Linked DNA regions of Homo sapiens. The protein of the gene in region 2 purifies or fractionates together with the protein of the main gene of each other region. This does not show direct contact. Each region holds a gene or a part of one and is shown on either strand. Other genes may lie near its edges. The genes, in order: FAM89A and UBXN2B.

Region 1 (2,719 bases), on a different chromosome or scaffold from region 2:
TGGGATCCCTCCCCAGAGTAACTGACTGAATATGAGGAAGCCCTGGAAGATGAAGGGCTCTACAGTTCCTCCTGAAAACTAGCCCCACAAAAACAAGCAGCAAAAGAACACAGAACATTTATAAAAGTCATATACTTGTTTATCTTCCAGTTCCTCCCTCCCCCACCACCCATCCCAGAGAAAAGAGCACGGTCACAGTCAGAACAGGAAATGCATCGTTTACACCAATACCAAAGAGAGAACAGTTAAGCCTCTTGGAAATGCAGCATAGACCAGCATCGGTGCCTCTTAACCTTTAAAGTGCATGAGAACCACCCGGGGATCTTGTTCAACAAGCAGACTCTGATTCAGTGGGTCTGGGGCCACTGGATGGCTGTGCTTCCACCAAGCCCCTATGGTGATTCCGTGCTATGCTGCTGTTCCACAGACCCTGCTCTGAATGGCAACGGGAAGAAACTCAAGAAGACACCAGGGGACCTGCCTTCGGCTTCTTGGCCCCTGAGCAAGGTATTTATCACCTTCATCTCCGTGCCTTGGTTGATGGCAAAATGGAACAATAATTTCTCTTATGGAGCTATTAGGGCAATTCAATATCAATCCACTCAATAAACAGGATTCTAATGCCTCCCGGGCTAAAGCACTAAAGATGCATGGGTACAGCTCTCCTGGGCGGCTGGAGAAGGAGCTTCTTCTCTGGAGTGCGCCGGTGGCAGCGCCTGCAGACCTAACTAGCTCCAGGACTTTAAAATACTGGAAATCTGTCCCGATCCAAATTCTTTTGCAAGCCAGATGATTAACCAGAGGGCACGAAAGGTTGAGAACATTCGACTTCCCTGCAAACCTTGGTATAGATCACTTCCTTTTCTGTTAGGAAACGAAAGGCACCAAAGAGCACAATGAGTACAAGAAAGCGTCGAGGTGGAGCAATAAATTCTAGACAAGCCCAGAAGCGAACACGGGAAGCAACCTCCACCCCTGAGATTTCCTTGGAAGCAGAACCCATAGAACTCGTGGAAACTGCTGGAGATGAAATTGTTGACCTCACTTGTGAATCTTTAGAGCCTGTGGTGGTTGATCTGACTCACAATGACTCTGTTGTGATTGTTGACAAAAGAAGAAGACCAAGGAGGAATGCTAGGAGGCTGCCCCAGGACCATGCTGACAGCTGCATGGTGAGCAGTGACGATGAGTTGTTGTCCAGGGACAGAGACGTGTATGTGACTACCCACACTTCCAGAAACACCAGGGATGAGGGCGCTATAGGCCTCAGGCCCTCGGGTACTGTCGGTTGTCCTATCTGCATGGACAGATATTCAGAGATCGTGCAGAATAGACGTCTCATCGTTTCCACAGAATGTGGCCATGTCTTCTGTAGCCAGTGCCTCCGTGATTCCCTGAAGAACGCTAATACTTGCCCAACTTGTAGGAAAAAGATCAACCACAAACAGTACCACTCCATTCATATATGAAGTATTCAGAGACGCCCAGGAGAGACGGATGGACAATCAGGTTCTCCAGTGGTATCTGCCTCCATTTTCCTGAGCTCAAAAAGACTGTTTTGAAACCCACGTCTGATATGTAAACTGCTCTTTTGTTTCCAACCCCTTCCTTTTGTTATCTCCAGTTTGATGCTATGGCGCTGGACCCAGGGCCCTCCCAGGCCATCTCTGTTCCTCTGGGGTGGTCCAGTTCTAGAGTGAGAGAAAGGGAGTCAGGCACACTGGGAATCGTGGTTCCAGTCTGGTTGCAGAACCTGCACATTTGCCAAGAAATTTTCCGTTTGGAAAGTTTGCCCCAGCTTTCCCGGGCACACCACCTTTTGTCCCAAGTGTCTGCCGGTCGACCAATCTGCCTGCCACACATTGACCAAGCCAGACCCGGTTCACCCAGCTCGAGGATCCCAGGTGCAAGAGTGGCCCCTTGAGGCCCTGAAAAGACCAATCACTGGACTTCTTCCCTTGAGAGTCAGAGGTCACCCGTGATTCTGCCTGCACCTTATCATTGATCTGCAGTGATTTCTGCAAATCAAGAGAAGCTCTGCAGGGCAATCCCGTTTCCTAAGAATGAAAAAGTGCAATAAAGGCCATTCGTTACCTACTTTTCAGCAGCCCACCAGATGTAGCACTATTAGTGTCCCCCTCAGAGGCTTAATGTTGCCTGTGGAGCAGTGCCCATCCCAGCCCATTTCTGCCCACCAGTTGTTCTCAGGAACCTTACCCATGCTCCAGCGTCCTTCACCTGGCACAGGACATGCAAGATAAATAGGACAGGCACATGTTTGGGTGTCCTCTCTTTTCTGATAAAATCCATCCGGTGTTTGCCACACGCCCTCCAGTCCTCAGTTCCCACTGCCTAACATCTGCCCCCCGTGTAGATACTGAGAGGTGGTGGCAGTAATTGTGGCCTTATCAGCCGCTCAGTTCCAGCCTTTTGCCCAGGTCACTGTTGCCCCATGTTCGGAGAACCTGGCCCACCTGACTTGGCTTTCTCATCCTTCCCAACCCCGTGCCGTTTATTTCAGAAGCCCACTGGGCTTGGATGCTTTGGGCCTTTGACTGCTCCATAGGTTATGACTGGTGAAACAGGGGCCCAGAGGACAACCTCTCCTTCACTCCACAGGTAGGTGGGAGCCTCAGGTTCGCTCAGGGGCAGCAAAGTGGCCCAAGCTGCCCCTGACAGCACAGGGCCTGGCGGTGGCTAACGAGAGAGGCCTTACAGT
Region 2 (4,375 bases):
TGCATACTAGAGAATCAACGATACAGAATAATGACATTCAATATGATTAGGGTACTTGTGGCAACACAGTTATCAGAACAGCTATCAGACATTTTAATTCTTCTCATTTATAGTACCCACTATTGAGTCCATCCTAACAAATCCAATCCTAACCCTAACAATACTGAAGTTATCCCTGTTCCCACTCCCTCCCCGTCCAACCTATGTAGAAACAGATAATATGTGGAGGAAAACTGGGACAGAGTATACAACTAAATACCTTAATGAACATGTGTGTGGCGGGCTGAGGGACACCAGAAGAGAAAGCAATTCAGAAATACTATTGAACACTGGTGAGGTTTTGGGCTTAGTTTTGCCACTAACAATCCCACCCCTAACTTTCCCCATGACCATCTCCTTATTTGAGGGGGATGAAGGGAGCTATGAAAATCTACTCTGATATGCAAAAAAACATTTCCGAGTCTGCAGTTTGTAACCTGGGGGCTCCCAGGGCTGGGAGGCCTTTTGGGAAGCAACTATGCAGCTTTTCTCTGGTGGTACCTGGAACACTCCCTCCTGATTCAGATGCTGACAAACCCTACACTGCATGGCAGCTAAGATACACTTACTCAGGGGTAATTCTGCTTGTTCCAATTGGTAATATGTTGCCCCTTTACTCACTCTGAAAGACTCTTAGAGCAAGCTGTTAGGGAAGTAAGAAATATCTACTGAAAGCTGCACGAACTGCGTAACTCTTAAGAAAAGCATGTCTAGATTAAACGGTAACAAGATAATCTATAAATAATCAATATCCAAGGTACCATTTGGGAAGAACATTATTTAATTCTTTTAAACTTTTGATACATACTTTATTTCTTGATATGCCATCCCTTTGGCTGTTTTCAAGTTTCTTTGCAAGTTCTTCACATTCATATTAAGTTCTAAAGGAAAGATTATCAATACTTAGATACTGTACTTGATACACCAAATCACATTCATAAAGAAATCAGTTATCTTCCTACTGCCCTAACCTACAACAAGTAGACAGGAGATGAAAAAAAAAATCCCCATCATAACTTAGGGTGGAAATGAAGGCATTCTCACAATTAGCAACATCTACCAGAGTATCTCCAAACATTAATCGTACTTTGATCCACTGGATTAAGACTGCAAACAATTTGCCAAGAATCAGGTGGTCATTAAGCAAGCTGTTCTCACTTTTCACATAAAAAGAAGAAATGGATTTAAATTAGGGAAAGGACATTAAGTTACACACTCTATTAACTTTAATGATATTAGAATTGACTAGCCAGGGAAAGTTATAGCATCTTTCTCCTGAGGAAAAAGGAATCAAATATTTGCCCAGCAACAACTGAGCCAGGATAATGTAGGAATTTTGCATAGGCCCTTTATAACATTATTTAATCCTTACACCACCACCAGCACCCTGACCTTCCTCAGTTTACAAATGAAGACACAGGATCAGACAGGTTAAGACATTTCTCCTAAGTTCACAAAACTACTAAGTAGCAGGACTAAGAGGCAAACCAAAATTGGTGGGACTACTAACTCCATGCTGCCTCTTAGTGATGTGGGTTTATAATAGGAAAGATGAGGTACACAATAGCTTCCTATCCCTTGATACTGTTTACTACTACTGAACCAACTATGGGAGCTGGAACTATTCTACATTAAGTTCACCTCCTAATGTTACACTGATCTCTCCAGCCTCCAAATTCTTCGCTTTATGCACTGCTTATTTTGGCACCCAATCATACTCCATCTTAAAATGTTATGCTAAGTATTCATACCCTATTTCTCCGAAGAAATCTGTAGGCTTCCAAAAGGTAGAACTGTCTTTTACACTTACATACCTACCCATCAATAGAGTTCAGCACCGACTAAGGATTTGATGTCCTTATTTCCACATTCGCAAAGCTCAGCAGTATGTTACAATGGATGGTGGTTTGTTCACATTAGAATGAAGTGTGGTTGTAAAGTAATACAGTAAAACTGTTCTACCAAGATTCTCCTTAGTATCTCCTTACTGATATTTACTTGTCAAATTTTTATCAATAATCTTATAATGAGACACAAAAACGCCTAAAATGAGAAAAGTGGCGTTAGTATCTGATAAAACGGGATTTGGTGCGCTACTATTTAGCTAACTAATACTAGTGTCCTACACAACATTACGAAATTTTATTTCCCAGTTTCTTCAGTGCAATGTTTTAAAGACCACAGCTTAGACAACTAGGCTGTATGGGCATAGAGTGCATCGCTTTCCTTCACCCCTTTAAAAGAAAAACCTACCTGATAAAATGGAACCATTTTTATATTTAAGTAAGCAAGTCAGAAATAGCATCCAAGACAAAAAAGAACAAATCACGTATCATTACTGTTCAGGTGACTGTCTACTTCCCTGCGGCCACAGTAACCTTTCTTCTGGAGTAAGTCTCAAGAAGGAAGCATCAACCCGTGAACCGACCAACTGACCCCGCAAAATGTCATTCTAAACGAATAGCTATTTTTACATCATACGTGGGGTGGAAGGGAGACAAAGCACCAGCGCTGGAGGCTTGGGCACTTGTGTTCACGACCACCACAGTGTCAAGACCCGACATCGGGAGACCGGGCGCCGGATTCTATCCCCAGACGGGGTCGGGGAAAGGCTCCGCCGAGGCCAGAGGTGGCCTCCAACTCGCACCAGCCCGCGCCGTCACCAGCCCGCGTCCACCGCCGCGCTCCCTCCCCCGGCTCCTCGCCTCACCTGCAAATCCCGCGCGCTCGGAGGCCGCGGCCCGGAAGACCTCCTCTCCTGCTCGCCGGGCTCAGGGCCTCCGCCCTCCGCCATCTTCCGCTGGCTAGCGGCGCCCGCTGCGGACGCACCTGCCGCAACTTCCGGGGCCGGTTGCCTGGCAACCGCAGGAGGGGCGAAGACGCGCAAGGTGCGTGCGCGTCCCCGCTACCCGAACCCGCGCCCCCGCTTCCGGTGCTGGCCCACCTTTTTGGTTTCTCCTTTTTTCTTAAAGGGAGTTTCTCCGCAGGGAAACCTCTGTTAAGTTTTGTGTTGCTCCTGCTACTCGCCTAAAGGCACTGTAGGCCGCCCTAGAGGGCAGCATAGACTTGCAGATTCATTTAGCTCAACAATGAAAACATCCTCTGGATTTTTCATCTGATGAAAAATTGCAACCTCTCCATCTAGTCTTGGTCAGATTCTCTGATCTTTCCTATCAAGGATTGGATGGTACATCGTCACCACAGCGTGAATTAGCACTGAGAGTGAAAAACACCGTAAAAAGTGCTTGGAATAATTTGCTAAAAGCAGAACTCTGCCGGGCCTGTGGCTCACGCCTGTAGTCCCAGCACTTTGGGAGGCCGAGGCGGACGAGGTGATCGAGACCATCCTGGCCAACATGGTGAAACCCCTTCTCTACTAAAAAAAAAAATATATATATATATATATATATATATATATATACACACACATATATATATACACATATATACACACACATATATATATACACATATATATACATATATATACACATATATATATATATATATACACAAAAATTAGCTGGGCGTGGCGGAGCGTGCCTGTAGTCCGAGCTACTGGGGAGACTGAGGCAGGAGAATCGCTTGAATCAGGGAGTCGGAGGTTGCAGTGAGCCGAGATCGCGCCACTGCACTCCAGCCTGGCGACACAGGGAGGATCCGTCTCAAAAAAGAAAAAAAGCAGATCTCGAGACTATCAAGCCCTCGTCATTCAACTGAAATTGATTTAGACTCTGGTCTTCTTATCCTAGGCACTTTTTGTTTTTGAGACGGAGCCTCGCTCTGTCGCCCAAGCTGGAGTGCAGTGGCGCGACCTCGGCTCACTGCAGCCTCCACCTCCCGGGTTCAAGCAATTCTCCTGCCTCAGCCTCCCGAGTAGCTTGGACTACAGGTGCGTGCCGCCATGCCCGGCTAACTTTTGTATTTTTAGTAAAGACGGGGTTTCACCATGTTGGCCAGGATGGTCTTGATCTCCTGACCTCATGATCTGCCCACCTCGGCCTCCCAAAGTGCTGGGATTACAGGCGTGAGCCACTGCGCCTGGCCTCCTAGGCACTTTTATGCCCAAGGGATGCAAAGGTAAAAAGAAATAGTCCCAGTCATTATGAAACTCAGTCTAGTAGGGAAAAGAGACATGTAAACGGGTAAGATGCAGCTTGCAGTAGAGCTTTGCTTGGGAGGGTTACAAAGGAAATGTGAGCCATGTGAGGGGAAATACTCCGTTGGTATCTGCTGTGTGCACCATGCTAGGTGCTGGAGTCGACAGCTTGCCGCCCGAGCTTTGGCATACTGATCGTTTTGATGTATAAAGGCATTTGAGGCTGGGCGTCGTGGC

The links.
Region 1: the proteins of UBXN2B (region 2) and FAM89A purify together in Homo sapiens (affinity purification with mass spectrometry; 2 studies listed by BioGRID and IntAct, with this or other methods). This does not show direct contact.

The regions. Positions count from the first base shown.
Region 1 is NC_000001.11:231,020,715-231,023,433, forward strand, and holds part of FAM89A (protein FAM89A), read right to left. Parts: intron 1-2,719.
Region 2 is NC_000008.11:58,409,844-58,414,218, reverse strand, and holds the start of UBXN2B (UBX domain-containing protein 2B), read right to left. Parts: upstream 2,859-4,375; 5' UTR 2,834-2,858; coding exon 2,750-2,833; intron 1-2,749. UniProt on the Homo sapiens protein: Adapter protein required for Golgi and endoplasmic reticulum biogenesis. Involved in Golgi and endoplasmic reticulum maintenance during interphase and in their reassembly at the end of mitosis.